Homo sapiens: one gene and its partners. The protein of the gene in region 5 interacts with the protein of the main gene of each other region in a pairwise test. Each region holds a gene or a part of one and is shown on either strand. Other genes may lie near its edges.

Region 1 (3,520 bases), on a different chromosome or scaffold from region 5:
TGGCTCACACCTGTCATCCCAGCACTTTGGGAGGCCAAGGCAGGTGGATCACCTGAGGTCAGGATTTCGAGACCAGCCTGGCCAACATGGCAAAACCCCGTCTCTACTAAAAATACAAAAAGTAGCCAGGTGTGGTGGTGCACGCCTGTAATCCCAGCTACTCGAAGGCTGAGGCACGAGAATTGCTTGAACCCAGGAAGTGGAGGTTGCAGTGAGCCAAGATCGCACGGCTGCACTCCAGCCTGCGCAACAGAACAAGATGCCATCTCAAAAAAAAAAAGAAAGAAAAGAAAAGAAAAACAAACAGCCTGGGCAAAATGGCGAAACCCCGTCTCCACAAAAAAATACAAAACTTAGTCAGGCATGGTGGCGCATGCCTATAGGATCCCAGCTACTTGGGAGGCTAAGGCAGAAGGATCATTTGAGCCCAGGATGCAGAGGTTACGGTGAGCTGAGATCACATCACTGCACTCCAGACTGGGCGACAAAGTGAGACCCTGCCTCAAAAAAGAAAAAACTAAGAAAGAGACTGCCTTGGGCTCAAGGCTGGAGAGGGAGGTGACAAAGACTGAAGGAGACAACCGATCCTGTCCAGAAGAGAAGAACAAACCTGCAATCCTCTGACCCCAGAAATTCCACTTATGGGAGATAATCAGCCACGTGGACCAAGACTTAACATGCCGAGATGCTCCCTACAGTTTCTCTTATAGGAGGGAAAAGAGGGCAACAATAATCTAAATGTCTACGAATACAGGAGTCAATAAATTATGGCATATCCGTATAATAGCAATTATATAATTATAAAAATAACGTAGAGGAATACACTATAACATTAAAAGGGGAAAAGCAAGCTATCAACTGTGTATTCAATGTATATATACTATTGCTCTAATTTAGAAAACACAGACATTATCAGAGGAAAGAAACACACCAGCAACTTTACTGCAGTTAGCTCTGGATGGTGAGGTCACAAGTGATTTATATATTTATTTTGGCATTTATTCTTTTCAGTATTTTCCTTTTTTTTCAGATGGAGTCTCGCTCTGTGGCCCAGGCTAGAGTGCAGTGTCGTGATCTCGGCTCACTGCAAACTCCGCCTCCCGGGTTCATGCCATTCTCCTGCCTCAGCCTCCTGAGTATCTGGGACTACAGGCGCCCGCCACCACGCCCGGCTAATTTTTTGTATTTTTAGTAGACACGGGGTTTCATCGTGTTAGCCAGGATGGTCTCGATCTCCTGACCTCGTGATCCGCCCACCTCAGCCTCCCAAAATGCTGGGATTATAGGTGTGAGCCACCGTGCCCAGACTTTTTTTTTTTTTTTTTTTTTGAGACAGAATTTCACTCTGTCTCCCAGGCTGGAATGCAGTGGCACAATCTCGGCTCACTGCAACCTCCACCTCCCAGGTTTAAGTGATTCTCCAGCCTCACCCCTCCTGAGTAGCTGGGACTACAGGCACTCGCCACGGCATCCAGCTAATTTTTGTATTTTTAGCAGAGACGGGGTTTCACCATGTTGGCCAGGCTGGTCTTGAATTCCTGACCTCAGGTGATCCGCCCACCTCGGCCTGCCAAAGTGCTTGGATTACAGGCGTGAGCCACCGTGCCCGACCTACTTTTTATTCTTTTGAGACAGGGTCTCACTCTGTCGCCCAGGCTAGAGTGCAGTGGCATGATCACGGCTCACTGCAACCTCAACCTCCCAAGCTCAAGTGATCCTCCTGCTTCAGCCTCCCAAGTAGTTAGAACTACAGGCATGCGCCACTATACCCTACTAATTTTTTCTTTTAAGAGGCATTTTTTTATTTTCATCACATTGCCCAGGCTGGTCTTAACCTGGCCTCAAGCAATCCACCTGCCTTGGCCTCCCCAAGTACTGGGATTACAGGCATGAGCCACCTTGCCCTACCACAAGAAAAATGTATTTAAAGGGCCTTGTACAATGCCTGGCAAATGATAGGTGCTCAAGGAGTATCTATTGCCTGACAAGTCAATTAAAAATGCAATAAATACTGCTGCTGCAGCCCCACAGAGAAAAAGACTGATGGTTATCTTGGAAAGGAGGAAGACGGTCCAGACGGAAGCCACACAACTGGCTGCAGAGGTAAGAACGGAAGGAAGTCCTGTACAAGATGTGAAAGACCGCCAGCAACTTGAGATAGGCTTTGTTCTGCCAGCTACTCCTGCTGCACGCAATGCTTCACAAATCAGTGCTGCTGCCAGCACCTCGGAGGTGCACTTCAGCTCGGACGAAGGATGCTTCTCAGGTCACACAGAAAACCAACAAGTACAGCTGAGAACAAAGCTCAACCACAACTTCTGGCTCAAGACACTAAGACAAACCTACCTCCCAGCACAAAAGAGATTTCCCACGTGCCACCCAGAGGTATAAACAGTAATATCGCCAATGGCAAGGCCCAGGTCTGCCAGCTCCCAGGTGAGGAGGTCCAGTCTGAATGGCACCTTTTAAACCTAAAGCTAATGACAAACAATTCTATTTCACCAGAAACAAAGCTCACCATATCCCATGTCGCTCCCATCTCCAACACCACAGCCAGTGCCTGTATTTCTTTGTCCCAATGACAGACCCAAGTTTCCTGAGGCTGTACAAGTCCCAGAAATAATCTTAAAAAGAGATCAAGTTATGATCTGAAAAGAAGACAGTCTAGTTAGCCCTGCCTCCTTACATGAAATTTATTTAAAACCAAAATTACAAGATTTGGAGCACAAAGCCCATTGTCTGCTGGAAATGTTGTTTTTTGGGGAGAAATCCATTGTTTTAAAATCTAGTATAGATAGGCTCTATTTAGTACCTGTCCGCCCATGACAAGATATGTACATTTCACGGTAGGGAAGCCTCATTATTGAATTCAGAAATACATGAATTGACCCACCTGGCCTATTCTGGTTTGAAATAGAAACCAACACAGAAATGATCAATCTTAAGGGGTAGGATAATGAGACATATAACTAGCATACAGCCACAGCCATTAGCAACATGAGTCAGTACTTTGTGCAAGGCAAAAAAAAAAAAAAAAAAAAACCCTCAAAAGTACAATAAAATAATCCTTCAGGATAAAAAAAGAGAACTGAAATTCAAAAGAGGTTAGGAGTGTTGAACAGGAAAAAAAAAATTAATAACAAAAATCCCTCAGCTAAGCACAAGGCAAAGGGACCCATGCTGGAACCAGTTCTGACCTGCCATTCCTGAAATTCCACTCTCCCGAGGTTTCCTGGCTCTTCCTTCCCCAGGCTTTCTTTTTACCTATTTGGGCCCAGTGGAGGCTGGAGACGGCCACTGTACGAGATGGGACGCCCACACAGTGGGCTTAGGGCCTAAGGCAAGGGCATGCAATCAGCATTAGGGGGCCACAGATAACCAAAATTCACAGGTATGCAGAAGCTCATGGGAGAGGCAGCGACTATCTCCTGGCCTAACTAACCAGTTAACAGTATAGAGCCAGACTGGGCCCGAGTGAAGTCAGACAAAAAGGAAGGGCCAAGAGGCAGGAAGCGAGGAA
Region 2 (3,520 bases), on a different chromosome or scaffold from region 5:
CTGTCAGGAGCTCCAGGCAGATGGGGCAGGTCACCTCCTTCTCTATGTCTACCTTTACTGAGAAATCCATTGCACTGCTCCCTTGGCTTCCTTCTGTCTTGACTCTTGAAGTTCTTGGTCACAAACTCCTGCAGTGCTGAGAATGTTGAAGGGGACAGGGTAAGAAAAGAAGGAATAGAAAGAATACTGCTTTTACAGAGATTTAGAACAGGACAAAACATTAATATTTAACAGAGAAAGGAGAAAAGAAAGGCATGAAGAATAAACCAATGACAGAATAAAATGGACTTTGTAGTAATTTCAAACACTTTATTCTTAATTTTTGTCTCAGGACAAATTTCACCCCATCAAGGCAATTATTGTTATTTTCTCTTCTACTGGAGAGGACAAACTGAGGCTCTTCTACCAAGAGCTTCGTGTAACCCATCATTTGTCCTGCCTTTTGTTCCCCAACCCAAAACACATTTTCCATGTTAAATGCACTAAACACACCCCTGCCCCTGGGCTTGCACACAGGCTTTTCTCTCTGAATGGCATGATTGTATCCCCAATATTTGCATGATTCATGAATATTTGCATATTTTTAAGCTATTGAATTGTATTTACATAGCATCAAACACTGCATCAAACATCATTTTTAAGTGTATCATGCAATAATTTCTAGTAAATCTGTGGAACTATATAACTATTACTGTAACCCAATTTAAAATTATTTTTATCACCTGAAAAAAAAAAACCCTAATGCCATCACTCCTATTCTGATCCCAAGCTCCAGGCAACCACTACTAATATCCTTTGGGTTTTTAATCAGTTGATAAAAATAGAATCATAATATATGTCTTTGGTGTCTGAATTATTTTACTTATACTGTTAAGGTTTATCTCCTCTGACTTTTTTCCCCATGTAAAAAATACCTCCTCAATTAAACTATCAAATCTATGGCTCCTCAAGGCTTTTGCACTTGCTCCTCTCTCTGCATAAAATGATCCTCCCCCTGATGTTAGCAAGACTCACTCTTACATTTAATTCAGTCTCCTCTTAGAAGTCCTCTTCTTAGAAGGACATACTATAATTTACTTATAGCAAAACCACCAGTACTGTCACTCACTGCACATTTAGCTTCTTATTTTTACTATGTAATATATAAGATTGTTCTTTAAATGTCTACTTCTTCCTCCTGAAAAGTAATCCATTCATAGACCTGGGACTTTTTTTGTTCACTGATATGTCCTCTATACCTAGAAAAGTGAATCACATACAGGAATAAAACATTTAACGAATATATAAAGCCACAACTTCCTTATCCCTCCATAGATGATTAGACCTTTTAATCAGATTTTCATCTTTTCTTTCCATCAATTAGCAGTTTCCCAATAGCTGACCTTTGGGACCACAATTATGGTTTCCAGTGAAGAAGTGTTTACATCCTAACACATCTACCCATAGCAAGTCCTCCCATGACCTCACACTCCATCCCCAAAGACATACACACACACCCACACACCACCACCACCAACACCATAATAGGAAAATAATTTTATCATGAACAATTTTATAAGCAGTTACAATTTAGAAATCATTTTGACTTCTTTATTCTTCATACAAAACCCTTGAGAAATAAGAATACTCCCTTTCTTCAGGTGTGTCAATAGAATCAAGTGACTTACAAAGATCACTCATTCTAATCTAATAGGTAGAGTAAGAGTGAATGTATTGTCCCCAAGGTCCTCCTTCAGAGTTCTCTCCACTGCAGCACAGATTTATACAGACAACAAAGGTAAAGGCTACAAGAGCTATACTGATACCCAGTGCTATTGGGGGTATAGAAATGGAGAGATCCAGACCAGCTATGTAGTTCTGGGGCATGCTGTGGTTTTAAATGTTGAAATTTCACCTTGGCCTGGACATATGGCAAGGATGGTGATAGGAACCTAAAGATGTATATATTTTGGGAAGAGGAAAAGAGGCTAAAATAGTTATAGGATCACACACATGATATAGACTCAATATACATTTCAAAGAAACATCTGTTGGTCATGGGAGAAAAGTCTCAATCCATAAAGGAGGCCAAGTACATTGAGAATATGTAGCAGAGAGATAAAGTCTGTCCTGTTTCTCCCCAAATGATGTTGAAATCCTAATGTGTGAATGTGCTCTTATTTGAAACTAGTATATTTAAATACTATTTAGTTACCATGTGCTCATTAGGGTAGACCCTTATCCAACATGACTGTGTCCTTATCAAAAAGGGACATTTATACACAAGGAATATGCCAGGGTGAAGAAGAAAGCAGAGATCAGGGTGATGCACCTATAAGCCAAGGAATGCTAAAGGTTTCCAGGAAACTATTAGAAGCTAGAAGAGAGGCATGGACCAGAGGCCTCCTTCATAGCCTTCAGAAGGAACCAGCCCTGTCAACACATTTTATCTTGGATAACTAGCCTCCAGAATTGTAAGGCAATATATTTCTGCTATTTAAGCCAACCACTTTTGGTACTTTTTCTATGACAGCTCTAGAAAACTAATACAAGTGCTTATTTTTCTTGATTTATTCATTCTTTTTTTTTTTTTTTTTTTTTTGAGACGGAGTCTCACTCTGTCACCCAGGCTGGAGTGCAGTGGTGCGATCTCGGCTCCTTGCCAGCTCCGCCTCTCGGGTTCACGCCATTCTCCTGCCTCAGCCTCCAAGTAGCTGGGACTACAGGCGCCCGCCACCACACCCGGGTGATTTTTTGGTGTCTTTTTAGTAGAGACGGGGTTTCACTGTGTTAGCCAGGATGGTCTCGATCTCCGGACCTCATGATCTGCCCGCCTCGGCCTCCCAAAGTGCTGGGATTACTGGCGTGAGCCACCGCGCCCGGCCTATTCATTCTTTATTCTAACATTGAAGAAATGTAGCCCCATTGAAACCCTTCCGACCTAAGACAGGTAGACAGACAGACACATAAACAAAATGCATGCTCCCCTTTGAAGGTGGTGCGAATGTAGAAGTTTCTATGACACGGTGAAGGCTAACTAGGTCCGTAGCTTCCTTGTTTCAGAATACTCTGATTACCTGCACAGAAGCTTTCTTTATCTGTGCAATTTAAATCAAAAAAAAAAAAAAAAAAAAGATGGCCAGGCGCTGTGGCTCAAGCCTGTAATCCCAGCAGTTTGGGGGGCCGAGGCGGGCAGATTACCTGAGGTCAGGAGTTTGAGGCCAGCCTGGCCACTATGGTGAGACCCCGTATCTACTAAAAAATATATATATATACAAACATTAGCCAGGTGTGACAGCAGTTGCTTGTAGTCCCCGCTACTCTGGAGGCTGAGGCAGGAGAATCACTTGAACCCAGGAGGCGGAGGTTGCAGTGAGCTGAGATCACACCACTGCACTCCAGCCTGGCAACAGAGCAAGACTCCGTCAAAAGAAAAAAAAAAAAAAAGATTAAATTAAATTAGTGTGGCTACACAATAAGGAGAAAAATTATAAGGGGTTTAGCCATCAATATCTTTTTTTTTTTTTTTTGAGACAAGGTC
Region 3 (3,520 bases), on a different chromosome or scaffold from region 5:
TTTGAGAACCAGAGGTCACACAGGTGCTAAGTGCAGAGCTGACCTTCCAACCCAGGAAGGCGGGTGCCAAAGTCACAGCTGGCAAAAGTCACCATCAGGTTATTCACTGGGAATTTGAAATTATGCTGTCAAGCTACTCTACAGATGTACCCCTTTGGTTTCTCAAGTTTCTTTTCATCGAACTTGCCACAGACTTATTTTCCTCATTCAGGAGTAAAGAAATGGGGCTCCTGCTTCTCATTACCTTGGAGGGATTCTCCCCCACTCACGTTTATATCTCTTTTAAGCTCTCATTTGACGACGTTTCACTTATATCACTTGCACCATGGCATCATCTGCCTAGGGTTTTCTGTTTATTTTCACAGAGCATACACATCACTGTGTATTCTAGAAACAGCTGTAGGCTCGTATTAGCAAAGTGATAAGAATCTGGGGCTTTGAAGACATGTAGGATATTAGCTAACTGAACTGTGCTATGAGATTGTTTCCCTTTCTTCTTGGCAAACCATTTCAGAGCAGCCTGGTGTGGAGACTGTGTTACTGAAATGGGGCCATAGGAGCCTCCAGACTCCTTTCTCCCTGCCAGAGGCTGATTAGGTAGATCCCATAGTGCAGAACTCCATGTCACCACCACATACGTGTATGGCACACGTGGGCCAATGGAAAGGGTCCAGGAGTTCTTACTTTCTAACTGGTCATGTGTAAGGAAGAGAGCACCTTCCTCCCTTAACACCAAGGGTTTCAATAGAGACCACTGAGCTGCTACATTAAATGAAAGATGCATTTTCTTGTGCCCTGGGATGCTGCCCCTTATTCACCCGTGTTTAGTTTTATCTTCTGTGTAAAAGATACTCGAGTTTAAATGGCTTAAAAATGAAGCAAGGGGCTGGGCACGGTGGCTCACGCCTGTAATCCCAGCACTTTGGGAAGATGAGGCGGGTGGATCACCTGAGGTCGGGAGTTCAAGACCAGCCTGGCCAACATGGCGAAACCCCATCTCTACTAAAAATACAAAAATTCTCTATGAATGGTGGCACATGCCTGTAGTCTCAAATACTAGAGAGGCTGAAGCAGGAGAATTGCTTGAACCTGGGAGGTGAAGGTTGCAGTGAGCCGAGATCATGCTACTGCACTCCAGCCTGGGCAACAGAGTGAGACTCTGTCTCAAAAAAAAAAAAAAAAAAAATGAAGGAAACTTGTCATGCTCTGACTCTTATTTATTTCATATTTTGTTTGTAAGCTTTAAGTACCCCACATCAAGACCTAACCCATGTTGTGATGGTGTCACTTTTCAGAGGGTGCATCGTATTAGCATCTGTTTCGTGTTACTGTCATGAGTCAGAATTCCAGTATTGATGATGAATGCTTCAGCATCTGCTTGATATTCTGATATTGAATTTAAGGATTATGTCAAGGAGATAAAATGATGAGGTTATTCTTATACATGTATTTGGGTTAATACTGATAAAAAAAATCTTGAGTTTATTTAAGATAGACCAACTTTTAATTGTGTTATTTAGTTATATAACTAGACTGGAAAGTTTGGTAGTATTTTTCCCAAAATCAAAAAATTTTGCTGAAAAATTCTTAAGTATCAACTTTTATATACTGAATTATTTTGAATACTTTAGATGTGTACTTTAATGGTACTTGGGAGAAAAAAAAACCAGATAAATGAATGAGTCATTTCCCAAAGTAGTTTGTAGACCGTCATTGACATTTATGGTTGAATTCAAGAACAATGCCCAGAACTAAATGAAGAGGTCCTAGAATAAAATATATTCAAGACTTACAACATGTATTGGTTACGGTAGAAACTGTACTGTGATTAATGAAAATAAAATCCTATTTAACTTTTCTAGAAAATATTTAGACTACCTAACAAAGTAAGTTACGTTTCACATAGTAAAACATTTATAGTTCTTTCTTCTTTGGGAATTTTTTTTAGTTATAAGCAGACTATTAAGTGCCTTGCTTATGGAATATGCTAAATACATACCTGTTGACTGTGTGCACACAGGTTATTTCCAACCCAAATTGATCTGTGTAATTCAGCCAGTTTCTAAAATTTGGGATTGGTGTCTATACCATTGAAAGCAGGGTTAAAAGTTTTTTGGAAGGCTTAGGGCTTAAGTTGGATTTCTTCCCACCTCACAATTTTGCAAAGTGCCCATAAATGTGGATTTACTTAATTGTTGATAAAAGGGGGTTATTTCATATGATAACAACAGGATAATCTGTCTAGGGAATTTGACTAACATAAGTCGAGTCACACTTGTGCCCATTTCTTATTGAGCTAATCAAACATGCAGTCCAGCTTCTTCTAATTGCCTGCAGATGTATGACATTCTCATTCCAGGCCAGCAGCACAAAATAATATTTTATAACCAATGTGGAAGTATGGGGACCTCTGTTTAGAACAATAATGTGCTCTAAGGACCTATATTATTGACATCATCATGGAGTTTGAAGAGTCTTCTGTTTTAATAAAGATCTCCACTCCCTTTTAAATGTTGCATATTTATGCCCAGTAATCCAGACACATTTCCTATGGTCTACTGGATAGAATAAATGAATCTTACAGATGAGTCTTATTTGCATAAAAATTATTTCTTTTTTCTATGTATATTTTTTAGCAGGTATAGTTTATCATTATATAACCTAAAACTCAGGACATTTTAAATGTAAGAACTGAAATCTGTACTGTGTTTCAGTCTTCAAATCAATTGTGCCTTTGAATGCACTATACCAGTCACAGATGGCTTCTAAATAATTTAAATAATACCACTAGATATTTTAAATGTACACTATTTTATAAATATATCCTTTAAATAGCTGTCCATTTAACTGTTTAATGAAAACATGATATGTTTATTCCCCTTCATGTATTTTTGGGGGTGTTTTCAGTTTTGTACAAAAACAAGGAGTTTGAAATACAACATAACATTCAAAGATCAGGTCACAGTGAGCAGGTTTTTTTCAGGTAATTTTTTGCTAAATGAGGATCATGCTGTGGGAGCCAGTAACGCTGGGAGTTTCCCATGACTGACATTATTCTTGGCATCTATAAAATGAAGATCATTTCAGTGTTACATACCTGGGGCCATGTATAGATAGAGTTTTCGAAATTAATTGTTTCCATTAGATATCATCTGCCTCAAAGACAACAGATACTCATCTACACCAAAAAGAAGTTGAATGAATGGGGAATATATTATAATCTGTTGATGGCTCACTTTAGTTTTCTACACCTTTATTGCATAGTCTCTTTCTCCTTTTTTTTTGAGACAGAGTCTCACGCTGTCACCCAGGCTGGAGTGCAGAGGTGCTATCTTGGCTCACTGCAACTTCCACCTTCTGGGTTTAAGCAATTCTTGTGCCTCAGCCTCCCGAGTAGCTGTGACTACAGGCGTGCACCACCACACCCTGCTAATTTTTGTATTTTTAGTAGAGATGGGGTTTCACCATGTTGGCCAGGCTGGTCTCGAGCTCCTGACCTCAGATGATGTGCCCACCTCAG
Region 4 (3,510 bases), on a different chromosome or scaffold from region 5:
ACAAAAACCACATGATTATCTCAATAGATGCAGAAAAGGCCTTCTATAAAATTCAGCACCCCTTCATGCTAAAAACTCTCTATAAACTAGGTATTGATGGAATGTATCTCAAATTAATAAGAGCTATTTATGACAAACCCACAGCCAATATCATACTGAATGGGCAAAAGCTGGAAGCATTCCCTTTGAAAACCGGTACAAGACAAGGATGTCCTCTCTCACCACTCCTATTCAGCATAGTATAGGAAGTTCTGGCCAGGGCAGTCAGGTAAGAGAAAGAAAGAAAGAAAGGGTATACGAATAGGAAGACAGGAAGTCACTTTGTCTTTGTTTGCAGATGACATAACTGTATATTTTAAAAACCCCATTGTCTCAGCCCAAAAGCTCCTTAAGCTGATAAGCAACTTCAGCAAAGTTGAAGTTGTGTGCAACACAAAATCAGTGTGCAAAAATCACAAGCATGTCTATACACCAATAATAGCCAAACCATGAGTGAATTCCCATTCACAATTGCTACAAAGAGAATAAAATACCTAGGAATCCAACTTACAAGGGATGTGAAGGACCTCTTCAAGGAGAACTACAAATCACTGCTCAATGATATAAGAGAGGACACAAAGGGAAAAACGTTCCATGCTTATGGATAGGAAAAATCAATATCATGAAAATGGCCATACTGCCCAAAGTAATTTATAGATTCAATGTTATTCCCATCAAGCTACCATTGACTTCCTTCACAGAATTAGAAAAAACTACTTTAAATTTCATATGGAACCAAAAAAGAGTCCATATAGCCAAGACAATCCCAAGCAAAAAGAACAAAGCTGGAGGCATCGTGCTATCTGACTTCAAACTATTTTACAAGGCCACAGTAACCAAAACAGCATGGTACTGGTACCAAAACAGGTATATAGACCAATAGGACCAATAGAACAGAACAGAGGACTCAGAAATAACACCACACATCTACAACCATCTGATCTTTGGCAAACCTGACAAAAACAAGGAATGGGGAAAGGATTCCCTATTTAATAAATGGTGCTGGGAAAACTGGCTAGCCATATGCAGAAAACTGAAACTGGACCCATTCCTTACATCTTATACAAAAATTAACTCAAGATGGATTAAAGACTTAAATGTAAGACCTAAAACCATAAAAACCCTAGAAGAAAACCTAGGCATTACCATTCAGGACATAGACATGGGCAAAAACTTCATGACTAAAACACCAAAAGCAATGGCAACAAAAGCAAAACTAAAATTGACAAGTGGGATCTAATTAAACTAAAGAGCTTCTGCACAGAAAAAGAACCTATCAGTGTGAACAGGCAACCTACAGAATGGGAGAAAAGTTTTGCAATCTATCCATCTGACAAAGGGCTAATATCCAGAATCTACAAGGAACTTAAATTTACAAGAAATAAACAACCCCATCAAAAAGTGGGCAAAGAATATGAACAGACACTTTTCAAAAGAAGACATTTATGTGGCCAACAAACAGGAAGAACTCATCACTGGTCATTAGAGAAATGCAAATCAAAAGCACAATGAGATACCATCTCATGCCAGTTAGAATGGCAATCATTAAAAAGTCAGGAAACAACAGATGCTGGAGAGGATGTGGAGAAATAGGAACACTTTTACACTGTTGGTTGGAGTGTAAATTAGTTCAACCATTGTGGAAGACAGTGTGGTAATTCCTCAAGGATCTAGAATGAGGAATACAATTTGATTTAGCAATCCCATTACTGGGTATATACCCAAAGGATTATAAATCATTTTATAAAGACACATGCACATGTATGTTTACTGCAGCACTATTCACAATGCCAAAGACTTGGAACCAACTCACATACCCATCAATGATAGACTGCATAAAGAAAATGTGGCACATACACACCATGGAATACTATGCAGCCATAAAAAAGAATGAGTTCATGTCCTTTGTAGGGACATGGATGAAGCTGGCAACCATTCTCAGCAAACTATCACAAGGACAGAAAACCAAACACCGCATGTTCTCACTCATAAGTGGGAGTTGAACAGTGAGAACATACGGGCACAGGGAGGTGAACATCACACATTGGGGCCTGTCGCGGGGTTGGGGGCAAAGGGAGGGAGAGCATTAGGACAAATACCTAATGTAGGTGACAGATTGATGGGTGTAGAAAACCACCATGGCACATGTATACCCATGTAACAAACCTGCATGTTCTGCATGTGTATCCCAAAACTTGTGTAATAAATATAAAAATAAAAATAGCTGCATTTTTAAAGCACTCATGTGTTCATAGATGCTTGCTCAACACTGTTTTTTCACCACTCCCCTGAGTTGTAGAGGCAGGTGGGTACTGACAAATGTCTTTATCAGTGAAAGGTGTCTCCGAGTTGAGGTGAGAGCTCTTTTATTTTAGTCTTTCAGGGATCACTTTCCCTCTGAAATACACTTGACTTAAAATGTAACAAGATGGCATATTTACTGAAAGGAATAATGCATCTTAAGATCTGTCAGATGATGATAAACTCTGTGCTCTCCTGGATAATGCTCAGATTAGTTCATATTCCCTGACACTGATTTCCCTGAAGCTTTAGACATGTCAGTGCCAAGAAAACTGTCTTCCCAAATAGTACACATCTATAAATTAAGAGTAATGGGGTGGGTTTTTGTTCTTTGAGACTATTTTTCCTAAATTTAGTTTCAAGAATTGATAAACCGCTTGCCCCTTCTGTTATGTTAGTTTATTATAGTCACATGTGGAAACTTTGTAATCTATTTCACTGAGGCATTTAAAAATATTCTGCCTTTTACATCATAGAATACCAGGAGATGCTGAATAGATATTTCAGTATTTTTCTTATTAGAAATCATAGTGTCCATTGTAGTACATTTTGAAAATACTGTGGTATAAAGAAAACTAAAATCACCTCTATGATCACTGTATACTTTATATATTTTCTTACAATTTTGTATTTTACAAACTATGGATTATGCTGTATAATTTTTAAATCTTTTAACAATACAAGCATTTTTTCTTTAAATATTTGACAGCATGATTTTCGTTGCCTGTATAGTATTTCATTACGGGTATATAATTTATCCAGTTCCCTGTTGTTAAATACTATGTGCAATGTTTTTTGCTTTTAAAAATACTATAAAAGACACCTTTGTATACAGGTCTTTTAGATTATTTCCTAAAAGAATTCTTAGGTTTAAATATGAGATACAAATGCTGCAAAAGATCCTAAAGTTCTAATAGAGAACAGACTGTCAAGTTTTTAGGTCAAAAAAGTCATTGCTACCTCACCTGAAAATCGTGGCCCAATTCTTATTTTTTTTTTTTTTTTGTCTGTGGGGAACTGTATTACATTAAGAATAGAGAAGAGTGAAGTTTCTTATTTTTTTGTTGCCCTTTCTTGCTCAAGTGCTATTACCACAGCTACTGGCACTCCATGGTCTATGTGCCACAGATGCAGCAGCAGCTTCATGTAGAGAATTATCCAGTCTATACT
Region 5 (3,520 bases):
TGGACAGCCCCCACACGAGCACGAGATGCTTCGCCACCCAGTTTTCGGTAAGACTTCCCCTCCAGGAGGGGCGGGGAGGCCGTGTGAGGGTTGGGTTGGGGTCTGGTCTGCTGTCTTCATTCATTACTCATTCATTCATTCATGCATTGAGCAGGTGGGTTCGCTCCCCCTGCATGCAGGGGGTCCGTGGGGGAACAAGCCTCCTGCCCTCTGGGGGCTGTCTGGGGTAGGGGTCATAAATGCATCAGCCTTGCTAAGAGCCGGTGAAAGTAGCAGAGGGGACTCACGGCAGGTCTCTGAAGGAGAAGCACTTGGGCTGAGGCCTTGGAGGAGGGGCCAGGCAGGTCCAGGCAGAGGCACCCAAGGGCACCTCCTGCCTCCCCAGAGGCTCTGCCCTCTGGCTGTCTGCAGAGTCTGGGAGGGGCTGGCTCCTGTGTCCGAACTGGCACCTCTCCTGTGCTCTTTGCCGTTTGCTGTGCCTGTGCCGCCCTGGTCTTGGCCAGTCCTCTGGCTATTTCTGTAGCGCAGGTTGTTTTGTGTTCGGCAGGCACCCCCTACCCCCGTGACCTGCCTGGGGCCATCCCACCCCCCATGTCAGCAGCCCACCAGCTGCAGGCCATGCATGCCCAGTCGGCCGAGCTGCAGAGACTGGCCATGGAGCAGCAGTGGCTGCATGGACACCCCCACATGCATGGTGGCCACCTACCAAGTCAGGAAGATTATTACAGGTGAGGTGGGGTGCTGGGAGGGAGTGGAGGGGTTATCTGAGCCCAGGCTCCCAACCTCCCCGTGTGCCCAGGGCCAGGCTCCTCCCCCTCTGCCTGCTGGGCCCTGGAGGGGACATTGTGGAACCATGGTGATGGGAGAAACAGAGGAAGGGAGGTGTTGGGAGGGTAGGTCAGCTACACAGGAGGCTGCGGGCTTGGGGTTGGATTGCCTGGCTGTTGTCTTTGGGGTTGCCTCCAGCCTGCGTGACTGCCTGCCTAGGCCTGAGACTAAATACGCTTTCCTGTTTTGTCTTTCCAGTCGACTGAAGAAAGAAGGTGACAAGCAGTTATAAGTTATTTATTTGTTAACGCTGGCTGTGGAAACCCCAGTTCTTGGGGGGAGAAACAGGACTTTTTACATAAAATAGGAGCTGCAAAAGCAAAAAGAATATCTTCTAAAGATTTCTTTATATATTTAAAAACCCACAACTAAAAATGTATCCACATAGTAGTGTTCGTTTGTCGAGAGGATTTCCTGAGACTGGTTTGGATCTCCCTGCATGACAGTCCCCCAGAAACTTAGTGAGTCCTGGACTGGACTGAACATCCAGAAAGCTTCCCTGCAATCTTGGGGTTTGGCTTTAGTTTTCTTTTCCTTGATTTCTCAGTAGGTGCTAGAATCCAGTTCACACCCTTCACTGTGCGTGCAGACACACTGACACACTCCGCCACGAGTGCTCCAGAGCCCACGAGGCTTGCAGATCGGGGGCATAGGAATTTGGAATCCAAGAGCTATAATTTTTAAAAAAAAAAATCTTTTATTTTAATACATTGTAGGAAATCTTCATAATTGGAGAAAGTTCTGCAGCATGGCTTTTTACGTCTGTAAATAAATAATTTTAGAACAGCCTTTTTTTCTTCCATAAACTACTATTGTGATCTATTTTTTCCAGCCATGTCACTAATTGTGAATTCCTACCAACTATTGACAGAATACAGAGTTGATTTTTTAATAAAAAGTTATATATAATTATCCCTTTAATTAAAGGGAGCAAAGGGGCGTTCCACATGGACAGAGGCTTGGACCGAGGCCTGGTCACAGCAGCGAGCATCCAGGGTTTGCAGGGACGATGTTACAGACTCTGTTTTCTGCCTGGCGTTTCACTTGTGTCTGCTCCTAGCCTGTGCTCTGCCAGCAGCACAGACATCTGCTCCATCAGACCTCTTCCATTTTGCACAGGGAGTGCAGGAGGTGAATGTTCACTTTCTGTTCTCCAGTGTCACTGTTCTGTTTCCACGGGATGGAAAGCGCATGGGCCTGTGTCCATTGTAGATTTCCTTCTAGATTTCTGTGTACACACACTTGATTGTTCTGGATGAATGTCTTTTTTAATACTCCGAAAATTTCATCATCTAAGAAAATGATTCCATACAAATAACTCAGCACACAAGTGACCCAGGACATATGCCTGCCAAAGGGATGTGTTAGAAGGCTGCCTTCTCATGCGCATTGTCACTTGGATCTTGTGGTGAGGACGGCCCCATCTTTCTTGCCACAGATTGAGGCCACTTTTGAGCAAGGGAGATCCTGGAGTTAAGACAGGTGTTGGGGGCAGCCTGTATTTTACCCTAGGGGCAGGTCTGCATGGTGACCCCACATTGCACTGGTAAACCATTTGAGTCCCACTCTTCATCCTGGAAGTGGGAACTGGAGTCCCACCCACAGTGCATTCAGAAAGCATGCTGTGTGGGGGCTGCTTCTCAGGAGGCCAGGCCCTTCTGAGCGGAACCGTCCTGGAGAGAGCCTGCCCTCGTTTCCAGGCTGCAGCCGTAACGCACTTTCTCCCAGGCTGAGGGCGGGTGTTCTGGGGTGTCTGCCCTCTGTCGGCCCTGCTTCCTGCCAGGACGTGGCCTCTTCCGATCCTTTTCTCTCAGACACTGGAGGTCTCTTCTGCCATTGTGCTGGTCCCATCCCAAGAATTGTAGGACAGAGACCACACTGGGTCGGCGGACACAAAGTCCATCCAGGACCCAGGCCGCAGAGGGAGCAGGAAGAGATGCTGATAGTTTGATCTAGAAACCAGCAGCTACTGGCTCAAATTCAGGTTCTGGCGTCAAATAGCGACATTTCCAGTTTCTCTTAAAAACCGTGTTTGGTTTCAGTTGGGATAGGCTTGTTTTGTCTGTTGAAAATGTTTCTAGTTTTTTTTCTTTCATTTTTCTCTCATTCCATTTCTGCCTTAACTTTAGTTTGTTCACAGGGAGGCAAAGCTGACATGAACCTTTTGTCGTGGGACTTCAGGCCACATTGGCTTGAAGGCATTCGTTTCCTTCTGGGGTGGGGACAGGCCCTCATGGCAGGCTTGTTCCCGTGGCTCTGAGCGAGGCCTCTTCCTGCTGGGCTCCCAGACTCCTGCATCCAGGCCCCCACCTTCTCGGCTTCTGGTTTTTCTTTCTTTTTGGTAGAACACAACATCTACCATTCAGTTAAACCTTCTTTATCTCCTCCTTTGGCATCCATTTTTCCAAAGAAGAGTCGAGTCCTCTGAGGTCTGTGCTTGAAAGCCGTCCGAAGGCATTCTTGTTAGCTTTGCTTTTCTCCCCATATCCCAAGGCGAAGCGCTGAGATTCTTCCATCTAAAAAACCCTCGACCCGAAACCCTCACCAGATAAACTACAGTTTGTTTAGGAGGCCCTGACCTTCATGGTGTCTTTGAAGCCCAACCACTCGGTTTCCTTCGGATTTTCCTCCCTTTGTTCGGGGTTTGGTTTGGCTCCTCTGTGTGTGTCCGTATCTTGTTCGGTGTCCTCGA

Evidence for each region.
Region 1: the proteins of RERE (region 5) and PRRC2B interact in a two-hybrid assay, tested with the Homo sapiens proteins (one large-scale study listed by BioGRID and IntAct).
Region 2: the proteins of RERE (region 5) and TRIM22 interact in a two-hybrid assay, tested with the Homo sapiens proteins (one large-scale study listed by BioGRID and IntAct).
Region 3: the proteins of RERE (region 5) and EFEMP1 interact in a two-hybrid assay, tested with the Homo sapiens proteins (one large-scale study listed by BioGRID and IntAct).
Region 4: the proteins of RERE (region 5) and ALG13 interact in a two-hybrid assay, tested with the Homo sapiens proteins (one large-scale study listed by BioGRID and IntAct).

Annotation. Positions count from the first base shown.
Region 1 is NC_000009.12:131,397,086-131,400,605, reverse strand, and holds part of PRRC2B (protein PRRC2B), read right to left. Parts: intron 1-3,520.
Region 2 is NC_000011.10:5,692,783-5,696,302, reverse strand, and holds part of TRIM22 (E3 ubiquitin-protein ligase TRIM22), read right to left. Parts: intron 137-3,520; 5' UTR 71-136; coding exon 1-70. UniProt on the Homo sapiens protein: Interferon-induced E3 ubiquitin ligase that plays important roles in innate and adaptive immunity.
Region 3 is NC_000002.12:55,913,774-55,917,293, reverse strand, and holds part of EFEMP1 (EGF-containing fibulin-like extracellular matrix protein 1 precursor), read left to right. Parts: intron 1-3,520. UniProt on the Homo sapiens protein: Binds EGFR, the EGF receptor, inducing EGFR autophosphorylation and the activation of downstream signaling pathways. May play a role in cell adhesion and migration. May function as a negative regulator of chondrocyte differentiation.
Region 4 is NC_000023.11:111,754,165-111,757,674, forward strand, and holds part of ALG13 (UDP-N-acetylglucosamine transferase subunit ALG13), read left to right. Parts: intron 1-3,423; coding exon 3,424-3,510. UniProt on the Homo sapiens protein: Catalytic subunit of the UDP-N-acetylglucosamine transferase complex that operates in the biosynthetic pathway of dolichol-linked oligosaccharides, the glycan precursors employed in protein asparagine (N)-glycosylation.
Region 5 is NC_000001.11:8,352,627-8,356,146, reverse strand, and holds part of RERE (arginine-glutamic acid dipeptide repeats protein), read left to right. Parts: coding exon 1-47; intron 48-547; coding exon 548-728; intron 729-1,026; coding exon 1,027-1,060; 3' UTR 1,061-3,520. UniProt on the Homo sapiens protein: Plays a role as a transcriptional repressor during development. May play a role in the control of cell survival. Overexpression of RERE recruits BAX to the nucleus particularly to POD and triggers caspase-3 activation, leading to cell death.